3 separate regions of the Homo sapiens genome follow, and all the other regions are linked to region 3. The links come from fine-mapping of genetic effects on gene expression. A gene starts in region 3. Each other region holds a variant in brackets. All regions are shown on one strand. Distances are from middle to middle.

Evidence for each region. PIP is the estimated chance that this variant, and not a neighbour inherited with it, causes the effect. A credible set is the group of variants that fine-mapping cannot tell apart.
Region 1: its variant is the best candidate, but not a certain one, in a credible set for the expression of ABCA5 in esophagus muscle (GTEx, PIP 0.85).
Region 2: its variant is the best candidate, but not a certain one, in a credible set for the expression of ABCA5 in visceral fat (GTEx, PIP 0.86).

What each region holds. Positions count from the first base shown.
Region 1 is chr17:69,251,253-69,256,483 of GRCh38, reverse strand. It overlaps ABCA5 (ATP binding cassette subfamily A member 5), which reads left to right. Exons shown (of 39, transcript NM_172232.4): 29 at 201-327; 30 at 634-751; 31 at 850-941; 32 at 1,994-2,169; 33 at 2,615-2,690; 34 at 2,817-2,911; 35 at 4,618-4,737. Among named protein-coding and RNA genes, the nearest start is that of PRO1804, 19 kb to the right of the region's middle. The variant A/G (reference allele first, on the strand shown) is at 2,703.
Region 2 is chr17:69,221,356-69,226,586 of GRCh38, reverse strand. It overlaps ABCA10 (ATP binding cassette subfamily A member 10), which reads left to right. Exons shown (of 39, transcript NM_001377321.1): 3 at 1,058-1,262; 4 at 3,890-4,054; 5 at 4,692-4,795. The coding sequence starts at 1,229. Among named protein-coding and RNA genes, the nearest start is that of ABCA10, 4.9 kb to the left of the region's middle. The variant G/A (reference allele first, on the strand shown) is at 2,960.
Region 3 is chr17:69,324,278-69,329,508 of GRCh38, reverse strand. ABCA5 (ATP binding cassette subfamily A member 5) reads left to right here and starts at 2,376. Exons shown (of 39, transcript NM_172232.4): 1 at 2,376-2,457. RefSeq lists an enhancer at 1,870-2,009 and silencers at 2,090-2,469, 2,600-2,689.

The DNA.
Region 1 (5,231 bases), 73 kb after region 3:
AGACCCTGTCTTAAAAAAAAAAAAAAAGAAAGAAAGAAAGAAAAAAAAAGAAATATCGCTTATAATTCCACCTTTCAGAGATAATCCTAGATCTTATGTTAGTGTATTTTTTCAGTCTTTTCTCTACCTAGTATCTGAATTTCTTACTATTTTAATTATTTGAAAACCTACTGTCTTTTATATTTATTATATATATGTAGAAACCTTTCAACGAAGTCTAAAAATAGGAAGCTTCCAGAACCACCAGACAATGAGGATGAAGATGAAGATGTCAAAGCTGAAAGACTAAAGGTCAAAGAGCTGATGGGTTGCCAGTGTTGTGAGGAGGTAATTTATTCTTTATGGCTAAGTCATAGTAAATATGAAATGATCAATTCCCGGTATATAGAAATTAATCTGAAAAATATTTTTCTTTGCATATGAAGCAATCTGAAAAAAATCTTTCTTGGAAAAAAATACTTCGTTTACTTACTTTTGAATAAGCCAGAATTTCAGTCATAAATGGATATTTATTTGTACAGTATCCCCTTATTAGCCAATATAATTTTTGTAATATGGATATGAGGTATGTGCAGCCTGTCATTTCATGATAAGTTTTATAACTTTCTTTTTAAATACAATTTTTCTTATTAGAAACCATCCATTATGGTCAGCAATTTGCATAAAGAATATGATGACAAGAAAGATTTTCTTCTTTCAAGAAAAGTAAAGAAAGTGGCAACTAAATACATCTCTTTCTGTGTGAAAAAAGGCTGGTATTTAATTTTTCCTTACATAACTTTTCTAGAAGAGTAATTTCTACTTTTAGTATGATTTGATTATGATTTTTTTTTCTTTCAATTCCTTTAGGAGAGATCTTAGGACTATTGGGTCCAAATGGTGCTGGCAAAAGCACAATTATTAATATTCTGGTTGGTGATATTGAACCAACTTCAGGCCAGGTATGATATATAAGAGTATAGGATATGTTGAATGTGATTTATATTGTTAATTAACATAAACTTTTAGTGACAAATTCGGATTTTATATTCAATTTTTATGTATATTTTTAGAATTTTTTGTACAGCCTGATCAAATTATGATCTTTTGGGTTATCTGTAAAAATAATGTGCATGGTGAAATTTTCATAGACACATGTAGACACACGCATATACAGTATTTCTGCTTTTGTAATGCTTACATGCGTGAGTTATTTGTCTACCAACTTAATGGAAGACAGTTTTATTAGCTTCAGGAGATATGGGAGCTTGTTTTGACCTGCCATCAGCTAGTCTTTTATTATAAGCATGTCACTGACCACTTTGTGGATACTTCACAAAACTACCCTGATCCCATTTCCTGCTTCTCTCCCCTTGCTTACTTTATGCCAGCCACACTAACTCATTGCTTTCCTGGAAAATGCCAGGCATACTCTTTTCTTTGGGTTTTTGCCCAAGATGTTTTCTTTGTTTGGCTATACCTTATACCCTAGAAATACATATACTAAATTCACTTACCTCTTTGGCTCAAATGTCACCTTCCAGTGAAGCTCCCTGATCATTAGAATTACATCTTGCTTTTTCATCCAACTCTGTATTACCCTTTCTGACCAAGTCTCTGAACTCTGACTTAGCTTTATATGTCCTTCCATCATCAAACATCAAAAAGGAGTAAAACATCTGGGCGGGTGCAGTGGCTCATTCCTGTAATCCCAGCACTTTGGGAGGCTGAGGCAGGAGGATCACTTGAGCTCAGGAATTCAAGACTAGCCTGGGCAACGTAGTGAGACATCTTCCCTCCTAAAATTCAAAAAAGAAAAAAGCAATAGCCAGGCATGGTGGCACATGTTTGTAGTCTCAGTTACTTAGTGATAATAATAATAATGACAATAAAGGAGTACAAATCTGACTTGATATTAGTCTGGCTGTAGGAAGGGGTTTTAATTAATGTACTTGCCACTTCCTTCACAGTGTAAATTAAGCAAAATAATAAAAATTGGTTTGTGTTTCTATAGGTATTTTTAGGAGATTATTCTTCAGAGACAAGTGAAGATGATGATTCACTGAAGTGTATGGGTTACTGTCCTCAGATAAACCCTTTGTGGCCAGATACTACATTGCAGGAACATTTTGAAATTTATGGAGCTGTCAAAGGAATGAGTGCAAGTGACATGAAAGAAGTCATAAGTCGGTAAAATAATTGTCTTTAGATTCCTTTTGTTACTTAGAGGAAAGGTTTGCATTTCATATTTTTAAAATTTCATAACAAGCATTTCTGTGGACAATGATTTTTATAGAAAATGTTTATTACTTTTTCATATATTCTTTATGATATATGAAAATATACTGATAGCTGTAAATTATGATAGTTATAAAAAGGTCATTTTTTAATTTCTAGTTACAGGATAAATATACCTATAGATATCATGAAACTTATTTTAATTCAAAGTGAACCATTTTATCAAGATATTAATTTATTTAAAATGATGTAAATTGGAGACTTTTGCCCTTACCTACTTATAATAAGCTTCGACTAAGTAACTATTCTAGAGAAAACAACATCAGGGATCACACCCAGTTGGTATTTGTGTTTATATATATCATGGTATTCTCATTTTGTATTGTTCATTTTGCAGAATAACACATGCACTTGATTTAAAAGAACATCTTCAGAAGACTGTAAAGAAACTACCTGCAGGAATCAAACGAAAGGTACTTTCATTA[A/G]ACACCAAATAATGCCTGTATTTTTATTGATAGTTTAGTACCTGATATTGTCTTGATAGATTCCTTATAGTGAACCTTTGTTAATTTCCCACCCATCTTTTTCTTTCCATGTAGTTGTGTTTTGCTCTAAGTATGCTAGGGAATCCTCAGATTACTTTGCTAGATGAACCATCTACAGGTATGGATCCCAAAGCCAAACAGCACATGTGGTGAGTATGGTACTTGTGACACAGTACATGATACTTTAGAATAGAACAGTTTCTTTTATTATAATAGTTTAATGTTAGTTATATGTACATCTTGATTTTAAATCCTATTCAAACGATACACTAGTAATTAAAAATTAAATAGATTTAGAGATTTCCTTAAGCTTTTAAAACTTTGCATATTTTTCATGAAGTGTTCATAATATTTTACATATTCCGAAACAGAAATAAGCATGAGTCATTATTAAGATAAAGAGTTCTAGTGTTCTGAATAGTTTTTAAGTTTTTTTCTAGTCATTTAGCATACAAATGATCTTTTCCATAATAATAGTGTCTTAAATTTATGTTGAGACTCTTTCTAGGACAGTCATGCATTGCCTAATGACAGAGATACATTCTGAGAAAGGTGATGTTGTCGTTGTGCAAACATAATAGAGTGTACTTATATAAATCTCTGGGTGGTTATAGCCTACTACACACCTAGACTATATGGTATAGCCTATTACTCCTAGGCTATAAATCTGTAGAGCATGTCACTGCACTGAATACTGTAGGCAGTTGTAACACAATGGTATTTGTGTATCTAGATGTATCTAAACACAGAAAAGATACATTATAAAAGTATTATAATCTTATGGAATCACTGTTGGAAATGTGTTTCATCATTGACTGAAATGTCATTATGCAGTGCCTGTAAAGTACTAATTAGTTGAACAACTCTTTTTTTTTTTTTTTTTTTGAGTCAGAGTCTTGTTCTGTTGACCAAGCTGGAGTGCAGTGGTGCCGTCTTGGCTTACTGCAACCTCTGCTTCCCAGGCTGAAGCGATTCTCCTGCCTCAGCCTTCCAAGTACCTGGGACTACAGGCAAGAGCCACCAAGCCCGGCTAATTTTTTGTATTTTTGGTAGAGACAGGGTTTCACCATGTTGGCCAGGCTGGTCCCGAACTCCAGACCTCAGGTGATCCGCCCCCTTCGGCCTCCCAAACTGCTGGGATTACAGGTGTGAGGCACAGTGCCTGGCCTTGAACAACTCTTTAAGCCTCAACTTCCATGTCTATAAAATGTAAGGTTTGGTTTGGATGCATGTTACGGTTTTCTTATGATTCAAAGCCTGTTTTGGTTATAACATGAAAAGGCATCAATTTTAAAATTTATTTGTTGTCATACTTTTAGCCCATATTAACATTTGAAATCATAGATTTTTTTTTTCCATTTGACAAGCTTTCAAAATGAAGGGAAAATAAATTAGAATATAAAAGTCATGGCCTGGCGCAGTGGCTCACGCCTGTAATCCCAGCACTTTGGGAGGCTGAGGCAGCAGACCACGAGGTCAGGAGATCGAGACCATCCTGGCTAACACGGTGAAACCCCGTCTCTATTAAAAATACAAAAAAAAATTAGCCGGGTGTGGTGGCAGGCACCTGTAGTCCCAGCTACTCAGGAGGCTGAGGTAGGAGAATGGTGTGAACCTGGGAGGTGGAGCTTGCAGTGAGCCGAGATCGGGCCACTTCTCTCCAGCCTGGGGGACAGAGCGAGACTCCGTCTCAAAAAAAAAAAAATCATAGTTGGGCAGGATGTAATAGCCATAGCAATTGATATTTGGTAAGTTTTAATTAACTTAATTAACCAACCGGTTGGATTTTTAAAAACCCATTTTTTTTTAACAAACAGATGTGTTCCTCTCTTTTTGTTTTATTTATGTTTTATAGGCGAGCAATTCGAACTGCATTTAAAAACAGAAAGCGGGCTGCTATTCTGACCACTCACTATATGGAGGAGGCAGAGGCTGTCTGTGATCGAGTAGCTATCATGGTGTCTGGGCAGTTAAGGTTGATGTCTAAATAGCGTGCCATTCAGGGGAAGAGGTTGGGGGTTGGATTTTGAAAGTCATCATTTCAAAAACATGGCAATAGTTAGTAATTTAAATGTTAAATATTTTAGTTTTTGAGTTAGCTTTTGATAGATTGACTTGGAAGTATGTTGAGTTTTTTAAAAATATGGCTGTCTACTTTGAATTTGAATTCACTTAATATTTCAATAACTTGGAATATTATTTTTAGGCATAGTACTTGTTATTTCAAAAAATTGTTATATATTGGATTAATTATGTAACACAAATATGAAATAAACATATGAGTTTCTACTTACATAAATAAATAATTGAGTAAAGAAATGTGTCAGAGAAGAGGTACATCTTCCTTACAGAACAATTCCAAATAATAATATATGTAGATAATACCCACTTCAAGGGAGGAGGCTTAATCTCCTATCCCCCAAGTTTGGACGGGACTTAGCCAGTTTCTTGTAAAAAATGAACGACAGA
Region 2 (5,231 bases), 100 kb after region 3:
TACCTTTGCATTCTGTTGAGTTTCTTGTATGCTGACATGAATATTAAGACATTGCTTTGTGTTACTATGAGATATAACTGGATCTGCCTTGACCATGTAGAGATTGCAGTCTGTTCAGAAATAGTCAGTACCATTTCAGTGGGAGCTAACAGGATTTATATCATCCTTTTAAATTTCTGCAATAGCTTCCGAAGCAGTTCGATCAAATATTTTGCTTCGTATATTGAAGAAGGATACATCTATATTTATTACTCACTAGAATTTAAAAAAAGTATGTCAATCCAGAAATGTGAAAATATTGGTACAATGAACACCTATACATCCACCATCCAGATTTGACAGCTGTTAACATCTTGCCATCTTTGCTTCATCTCTCTGTCTCCTCTTCTTCCCTAAAATATATGTAATGGCTAAATATTTTAGTATCTCAAAAAATTAAGAACTTGGTTCCCTACATTACCACTATCCCACTACACAAAATTAAAAATAATTCCATATCATCTAGTTCCATGGCCAAATTCAATTTTCCAAATTTCCCCCAAAATGTCTTTTAAGGTTGATTTGTTCAGGAACCAATGAGACAAAACTAGTTATCCTGTTGAATATTCCATGTTCTCTTTTTATCTGATTGCCTCTCCATGCTGTCATTTAAGTCATCCCTTTATCATCTATATTTTTTGTAAGCAGTGAGCTGGATCTAAAAGCAGGATCCAATTCTGGTTAAATATTTTTGGCAAGAGTATCTTCTGTGTGATGCCATATACTTACGTTGCTTCAAATATGAGGGCATAAAATCAATGGCAGTCCCACTAATAGGGGTGCTAAATCACTGGGTTAAGATTGATTGCAATTGTTGATATTATCTCAAAAGTTGTGTATTTTTGAAAGGGTGTTTTTTTCTTTAAAAGGTAGATATTAATTTGGGCAGAAAAAAATTACAGACTGAAATGAAGTCATGCTCAATGGCAATACATTCTGCCTTAAAAATGTGTTTGGATGTTTCTCACTGGTCTGGACCACGTTATAACATGGCTCATTTCTCTTTTGTGTGCTGGAGGAATGGACAATAACATTGTTTCTAGGGCTATATTTGTGCATCTTTTCGGAACACTTCAGAGCTACCCGTTTTCCTGAACAACCTCCTAAAGTCCTGGGAAGCGTGGATCAGTTTAATGACTCTGGCCTGGTAGTGGCATATACACCAGTCAGTAACATAACACAAAGGATAATGAATAAGATGGCCTTGGCTTCCTTTATGAAAGGTGTGTTGTCCAATAACCAATGTTTCAGTATTATGTGACTTAATTTTCAAGTTCTTTTTGCAGGTTGAATTTACTTACCTAGCCTGTGTGTCAGTGATTCTCAACTGAGGCAAAGATTCTCATTATATATGCAGTACAGGGGTTGGTGTGAAGCTAAGGGTAGGTGGGCAACAGATGAAATGATTTACTTTTGTTTGTTTGTTTGTTTTTAATGATATGCATACCGTTTGCCCTTTATACTAGAACATATTGTTGCAGTAGGAAAAAAAGATTGGACCCATTTTAGATGATACAAATTTCACTTTTCCAAAACTTAACTTAAAAAACTTTATATTTGGGTTGGTATTCTATAATTTAAAGAGTTTCAAAAAATTTTAAGGATTTAATTATTTTCAATTGAGATTGAAATAAATATAGTTCCCAGTATATAGGAATTATAAATCAAAGGTGTTTGAAATTCAAACTCAAGCTTAGCAATGGTGTTGAAAAAGCATTACTGTTTGGTGTATAAAAATAGTTAAAATGTACAGCTCAGGGCATTTAAAATTATTTAAAATCAAATCAGGTATTGGCTACTGAAAGTCAACAAATTCACAGCCCTTGATCTTAGAGTAGTGAGGCTTTTTTTTTTTTTTTCCCATAAGACTTTTTCTGCATATCTGGACTCAGAAAATAGATGTCTCTATGTTATGTAGGATGCTGCATTAATTTGATGTATGCATCTCATAAAGAAATAAGAACACCTGAGAGTCCTACTTACTATGTGAGACCTTTGCCTACCATCCTTTATATCTCTACTGCCATTAGGAGTAACTATTGGTGGTCAGCTGTGGTCTCTGGACTCTCCATAGAGGCCTTTGCTCCTGCATAGGGAAAGTATCAGGATAAAATGTTCTTTTCTTCAGCAATCTTAGCCTACTATCAAATTTCTCTTGTTGTTAGCCCTCATTCTGCCAGGGTTCTGAACATTGGCCATTTCATCCTTTTGTACATTTTATCCAATCTGTTAACGTCTCAGCTCTAATCACTGCTTTTTCTTGTCTTTCTGAAACTTTTATTTAGTTTTTTGGTGTCTGGATTGCCATGCCAAGGGACACCTCCAAACTCTGAATTTTAATTATTTTATGTGAGTTGCTAATATTCTGTGCCTAACCTATCCAAGCTTTCGAATGGGTATTGTTATCCCTGGCTGCTTTACCCTGTTTTGTAATTCTTCATTGCAGTTTCTGGAGCTTTGACTTTGGTGGGCCTCCCTTACTTGCATTGTTTACATGTTCTGCCTGACCACAGTGTTGATTCTGCCCTGATCTGTCTCTATTCACTTCCTTTGTGTAGTCATTTACCTCATTTTTTCTGAACTCATGAAGCATTTACTGAAGCCTCAGGGACTATTCTTCCTGTATGCACAGTGTAAGCTAATAGCCACTTTCTGTCTTAGTCTCACGGACCACTGGACTCTGTCTCTTTCTTATATAAAATATCTCATTCCAGCTACCATGCTCGCCTGTTCCAACCACAGCTCCTCTCTCACTGTCTTATTCTACATTTATCTAACTCTTGCTTTTTAGCATAAATATTCATGGTTTGGCCTTGACAGTATTTTTTATACCCCTAGAGAAAATCAGTGATGTTAGCACTGTCCTCATAAAAGTTTCACCGCCTGACTCTATATTGGGAAGGATGAGGAGTTTTGAAAG[G/A]TATGGCTACAGCATAAAATAAACAGCTTTTTCATCTTAATGTAGATTTCACCCTGAGTGAGATACAAAGTTAATAAAATTTTTAGAACATAATACATAAACGTGAAAAAGGAGGCACTAATTGGACCAGTGATTTTCAAAGCTTCTGTTAGTAATAGATCTATTAAACACTTAGTGGGTGGATTACTCCTGCAGATTGTAAACTCATTCATTTATGCACTGATTACTATACACTTAATTCTTAGAGAGTGTTCTTGACCTCAGAGAATCTGTAGGTAGACTATATTTTTTATTTTTGTACTCTGATTTTTTGTATACAATTTACCTCTAGTGTACTATTTTCATGTGATATCAGTTTATAATCTTGGCAGAAAAAGAGAAAACACCAAATTCTGAGTATTTGTATTGCTTACTTTAAATATTTTTCCTTTTAATTCTTAAATTATTTTAGTCACTAAAGTAATATCTACTTTAAAAAAAGTTGAATAGTACAAACTTGTATGAAGCAAAAATATGAGAGCTTTTCCTTTCATCTTCACCACTACTTCCTCTCCTCCCCTACCCCCTCTCCTCCCCTACCCCTCATTCAAATTGTGTATATCCTTCAAGGCAAATATGCACATGGTCATATATAGAGTATGTTTCTATGCTTACATAGGCACATAAATTCAGTTTTCTTTACCAAAATGAGATCACACTAAAAGCAATATGCTGCAGATTTTTAAAAGACAATGTGTCCTTTGTGTCTTTTCATGTATTTGCATTGAACTTAAAACAATAGTTTCACTCAGCCTTTTACTAAGAGGCAGCTATCCAGAAATAATATATAATACCACTAATTTTATATAAAACAAGCAACTGTATTTTGTTTTTGTGTCCTCTAGTAATAAGTTTACATGATTATTTATTTATGTTTTTCATACATGGTAGGAAGAACAGTCATTGGGACACCAGATGAAGAGACCATGGATATAGAACTTCCAAAAAAATACCATGAAATGGTGGGAGTTATATTTAGTGATACTTTCTCATATCGCCTGAAGTTTAATTGGGGATATAGAATCCCAGTTATAAAGGAGCACTCTGAATACACAGGTAACTATAAAAAAACTGATTATAATTTTTTTTTGATACTTCATGGAATCCCCTGTTTGGAATGACTGATAGGAATATTAATACAACCAAGTAAAGAATTAATATACATTTCCCTCTGAACTTAATCATCAGTCTTTAACTTAGGATGAGTCTCATTATTTTGGCAACTACTCATATGTCCTTTTTTTTTTTTTTGAGATGGAGTCTCCCTCTGTCACCCTGGCTGGAGTGCAGTGGCGCGATCTTGGCTCACTGGAACCGCTGCCTCCCGAGATCCAGTGATTCTCCTGCCTAAGCCTCCAAAGTAGCTGGGACTACAGGCTAATTTTTTTGTATTTTTAGTAGAGATGGGGTTTCACCATGTTGGTCAGGCTGGTCTCGAACTCCTGACCTCAAATGATCCACCCGCCTCGGCCTCCCAAAGTGGTGGGATTACAGGCATGAGCCACTGCCCCTGCCATCATATGTTCTTTTTTTCTCCAATTCTGTAGAGTACTTTAAAAATCCTCTATATCATATAATCATAGGCTTTGAGCTAACATTTAGATATTTTGATTTTTGAGCCAAAGTTAAAGTTTTAATTCCAGGAGTTGACTCCATTATATAACTATGGACATGTTTTTCTTCTTCCTTAAAGAACACTGTTGGGCCATGCATGGTGAAATTTTTTGTTACTTGGCAAAGTACTGGCTAAAAGGGTTTGTAGCTTTTCAAGCTGCAATTAATGCTGCAATTATAGAAGTAAGTGCCTAACTTCAAAGCTATATTTTAAATCTGTATTCTTCCCTCTTTTTAAATATCTGCCTCATCCCCTACCTTACTCTTACACTCTTAGGAGGTGATACTTTGCCTGTCATCCTCAGAGAAAACAAAAGCTGTCACATGGGAATATCTCCCAACTTCTAACATAAACCCTGTAAAACTACAGACCTATGACCCCCTACACACATTCTCTTTCTTCATCCCTAATGTCTTTCCTCAGTTCATGGTCTGGATCCCATCCCTCCCAACTTCATCAGCAAAGTTCAACTATGGACTTTTGTTTTTGTCTCCTCTTTTCAATCTCTGCCTTTCTGCTAGATTCTTCTCTTCAGGATTTAAAATTAATTTCTTCACTTATGGTCAAGACCTTCCTTTATCCACTTTCCTCTTCACACAACTACCCTAACTTCCTTCT
Region 3 (5,231 bases):
CAAAAACTAGCCTGTGTGGTGGCATGCACCTGTAGTCCCAGCTACTTAGGAGGCTGAGATGGAAGGATCACTTGGACCTGGGAGGTAGAGGTTGCAGTGAGCTGTGATCATGGCACTGCACTCCAGCCTGGGTGACAGAGCAAAACTTTGTCACAAAAATAAAGAAAGAAAGAAAAGAAAAGAAAAAGACAAGTCAAGAAAAAGCTCTTAACCTAAGACTATTTACAATTTAATTGAAGAGATGGTAAGTAAATAAAATGATGTGAACAAGATGGTAGTATGTAGGCAATTGGGAGGAGAGTGAGATCATTTTGTCCAGGGTGATGAGATTTTTGGAGAATTGGGTTTTGGTCATGTCATTTAGAAACAAGAGTAAAAGCATGAGCAGACAGAATGAATGACAGAGAACATTACAAGGATAAGAAATGTAAGAAATAAATGCCTAGAATAGTAGTAGAAATGAGTAGACTTCTGAAGTTAAGGCAGGTTAAGGCTACTAGTGAGAAGTGTTGGGGTGAAAGTATGGTTCAGTAACATGTTAACCAAGTTTATCTTTCATGTATATTTCTTTACTTGGCCCCAAATCCTAGGCCATTGAGAATTTGTAACTAAAATGTTCTAGATGTTTCCAAAAGAGACAGAATATATCAGGGATAGTTTTCATTACATGCCTTCTTTAGTTTCCTGGTGTAGTTTTTTGAATATACTTATCTCCCTTTCCCCCATCCCCATTGCTAGATCTTTTAATCCAGGGGTCCCCAATCCCCAGGCCAGAGACTGCTACCGGGATCTGTGGCCTGCGAGGAACCAAGCAGCACAGCAGGAGGTGAGCGGAGGGCAAGTGAGTGCAGCTTTATCTGTATTTACAGGGGCCCCCCATGGCTGGCATTAGGGCCTGAACTCCGTTTCCTGTCAGATCAGCAGTGGCATTAGATTGTGATAGGAGCGAGAACCCTATTGTGAACTGCGCATGTGAGGGATTTAGGTTGCGTGCTCCTTATGAGAATCTAATGCCTGATGATCTGTCACTGTCTCCCATCACCCCCAGATGAGACTGTCTAGTTGCAAGAAAACAAGCTCATGGCTCCCACTGATTCTACATTATGGTGAGTTGTATAATTATTTCATTACATATTACAGTGTAGTAACAGTAGAAATAAAGTGCACAGTAAATATAATGTGCTTGAATCATCCCCAAACCATCCTCCCTCCCCCAGAAAAAACTGTCTTCCATGAAACTGGTCCCTGGTGCCCAAAAGGTTGGGGACCGCTGTTTTAATCATCAAGGATTCTGACGAACCTCTTTGAATTTTCTATTTAATTCATATTCCATAAGTAAAACTTGATTCCTTGTTTGTTTGTTTTTCCCCTAAGAATTTAGAAAGCAGAGTGCATGTTGGGGAGACCTGGTTTAAATTCGAGAAGCAGATAACACAAAGACAAGTAAAAAAAAAAAACATGATGTACACAGGATTGACAGAATAAAAAAAAAGTCTTTGTGCAAGGGAATGTGACTATACAGAAATGTGGAGAGGAAAATACGTAATGTTAGTGTTAATAACTTTTGACCCCATTTAGGTCACTTTGAGTAATGAAGCTCAAAACACTAGATTATATTTTTAGCAAAGTAAGTGCAGTATCCAGTCTCTCACAGATGTCATGTGTCTCAGGCCGTTTGGAAAATTCAGCATCTGCCGCATTCCCAGTCTTTGATGAGGACACTCCGCGAACTACAAGCACCCTCAGTGGGAGGACCTCCCAGGTCGGGGTGTGAGGGCCAATGAGGAGGCTGGGGAGGGGAGGCAAGAGTTACGGAAACGGGGCCACAGCACTCCAGATGCCGCGGCGGGAGGAAGCGGGGCTGCAGAGGACTCAAAACGCGTTCAGAGAGGCCCATCCAAATGCCAGGAGACAGACGGCAAGGATGCTTAAGAGGAGACGTGACTGGGCGAGGCAGATGAGGAGAGGGCCGTGGGCCAAGGTCACCCGCTAAGAGGCGGCAGGTTTACCACTGAGACACGAGGCCGTGGTTTTTGCCCGTGCCTCCAGAAAGAGCGTGGCGAGATCCCCGCAGAACCCAGGCGTGGGAGGCCCTGGGGAAGAGCCACGAGGCCCGACTCTAGTGGCTCAGGGGCCCTGGGCAGCGGCGCGCCACCGCTCGCCCCACCCTCAGCCGCTCTCCTCTTCCGGGCGCGCTGCTTGCCTGCGTGCGCCGGGACGCGCGGGGCCGAGCGTCTGAAGCGCGCCCGTACGCGGAGCGGCGCTTTCTAGGAGCCCCGCCCTCAGGTGCGCTCTGCAGGAGGCGGGGCGCGACTTCGGCGCCGCCAGCTCTGCCTGCGCCAGGAGCGCGCGGGTGCGCGCGGCCGCGCCCTCGCACAGATCCCAGCTGGGTCACCCGCACTGAGTCAACAGACTGAGCGCGTCCAGGCCTGACAGCTCTGCGGCTCGGGCCCTGAGGTGAGGCGGGCGTCGCGGGCGGCGGCGGCGCTTGAGGCTAGCCTGGGACAGCCGTCCCTGGGGGAGTTGAGGGGACGAGGAGGGGCTGGCCAGCGAGGGACGGCGGGGAGAGAAGGGGAGTTCGGCGTCTGAGGTGTGGGGTGAAGCGGGCTCGGAAGCGGGCAGAGGCGGCGAGCTGAGGGAAACAGACCTCCCTCAGCTCCCGGGAAGCGCGGGTTGCCAGCCTCGGGGATGCGGTGGGAGCGCCCAGGATGCGGACGTGAGGGGGTCGGGGCCCTGCGGCGGGGGCTCCGCGAGGCTCCCCTGGGACCGGGTCCGGCCGTGGGACTTCGGGACACTGCCTTTGCCTGGACGCTGTCGTTCCACCCTCAGCAACCTCAGGGAAAGAAGGAAAACAAATATTGATGTAAATTTCCGTCTGAACAGCTGGGTAATGAGCGCTTGCTCTTCCCTGCGAGGTTACGCGCGGATCATTACCTTGCGTGTTAAAAGGAGTTTCAGTGAGAAGAAAATGCGCAGATCTCATGACACAGTTTGGGAGGGAAATTCCCTGATCCTAAAACACGAATAGGAGCTCCAGGCATGGAAATACTTAATTGGATCGGAAAGCTGGGCAGGCTGGAGCTATTAAGCTGAAGGAGGTTTTCCCCTGGGCTCCTCAGGCTTCGATTTACGTTTTAAATAAATAAGTCCGAAAATAATGAAGATAATAACCACGTTTACTTTCTACAAGGGCGTTCTGAAGGAATCTAAGGGAAGAGGAGTATTTGCTGGACTACAGCTTTAAGCCAGGCTCGGTATTAGCTCTTTTCATTCTGACAGCAACCCTGTAGGATTGGAGGGGGTTATTCCAGTTGGGCAGGTGTGGAGAATGGGCCTCAAAGAGGTTAAGTAACTTATTAAGGTCTCAGCTAGTAAAAGGATGGAGTTGAGATTCCAACCCGGGCTGCCAGACCCTAATTCTGGTGCTTTATTTAGTATATTTTGTGTTTGCCGGGAGAGCAATATTGTATGTGTTTTAGGGAAGACTCCATAGTAGGGAACATTATTAGGGCAGTTAGGGCTTTGTGGGTATTTGTGTTAAAATCAAACTAAAGAGGCGTTAATCTTTGCATATGTGCTGTTTGAGTATATTTCCTTTCAAACAGATTTAGTGTAGGGAAATCTTACATTCACTATAAGAGCAAATTTATTAGTACATTCCATGTGTATTGCATGTCTTTTATTTTTAAAGAGACAGCGTCTCGGGCTAGAGTGCAGTGGTGCGATCAAAGTTCACTGCAGCCTTGAACGTCTGGACTCTAGGGACCCTGCTGAATAGCTGGGGCTACAGGCGTGTGTCACTGCGCCCAGGTAATTTTTTATTTGTTTTTCAGAGACGAAGTCTTGCTATATTGCCCAGGCTGGTTTGTTGCATGTCTTTTACATTCCAGATACCATACTATGTGCCAAGAGTACCGATATGAATACAATTTATAATCTCTGTCCTTGAGTTTAGTTGAGAGGGTGATTGCATAAAAGAATTTTATGATATTGTACTAAGTCATAACTTTTCTAGTATGTAAATTAGTTGGATTAAAAATAGTTTTAAGGGCAAGCTTTTAAGGACCTATTATGCATAAGAAAATTTATTGGATGACTTGTCCTCTGTGTACCATTGCATTGTTATTTTCTCCCTCAGCAAGAAACACTGTGATAAAATTTAGGTTAAATTATATTGACAACTAGCATTTTTTTTTTTTTGAGACAGGGTCTCATTCTGTCACCCAGGATGAAGTGCAGTGGCAGGATCTTGGCTCACTGCAGCCTTGACTTCGCAGGCTCAAGTGATCCTCCCACCTCAGCCTCCCAAGTAGCTGGGACCACAGTTGTGTGCCCCTACGCCTGGCTATTTTTTTTTTTTTTTTTTTGGTAGAGACAGTGTCTCTCTATGTTGCCCAGGTTGATCTTGAACTCTTGGGCTCAAGCCTTCCTCCCACTGGGATTGCCACGTGAGCCACTGCACCTGACTGCATTTTGTTTTATTATTGCACCACCTTACAGTAAATTTTAAAGCAATAAAGAAGATGAGAGCATTTATAATTTATCCCTTTTTAAGCTAAAAGGCATATTTTGTAGTGCTTTTATTTCATTGATTGAGAAGCAAATGATGTAGCTAGGCAGGAGTTTGTTTCATGTGCCAGATATGTTCCTAATTTCTCATTCCAAAAATATCTTAGTTTAAAAGTGTAGCTAATACCAGATTGCATTTAATTTCTTGTGTTTCAGAGTTGTAATGAAATCAGTCTTCAGTTTAGGCTGAAATGGCACATTGTTGAAATGTATAACATTACTTTGTGGTGGATTTTGGAAATCTCTTTTAATTGCTTCAGTTTTCTCAGTAAAGTAGGATTCAAGGTCATAATCTGAGGGTGATCCTACAGATGGAAGCTTTGGAGATTTGGGGATTGGGAAAGTGATGGACTAGTGGAATATGTGATTGCTAGGAAATTAAACATGACTCACAGTTGTGAAAAGTACAGTAGAGGAAAGATATGAGTGCACAAATTAGGGTGTCTAATTTTGGATACCAGAAACTTCATAATCCATTCCCAATGCCTGCCTTTACCGTGTTATCTAGAACATACATCTGCACCCCTTGCTCCGGTTCACTTTGCCTTATGCCTCTGCCATATGGCAGGTATCCCTGTTCTTCACAAAAGTCAAGCCCTTTTGTTTGGGAGTCTAGCTTTACCATTCTTTTCTTTCTGCCTGGAAATTCCATTCCACTCCTT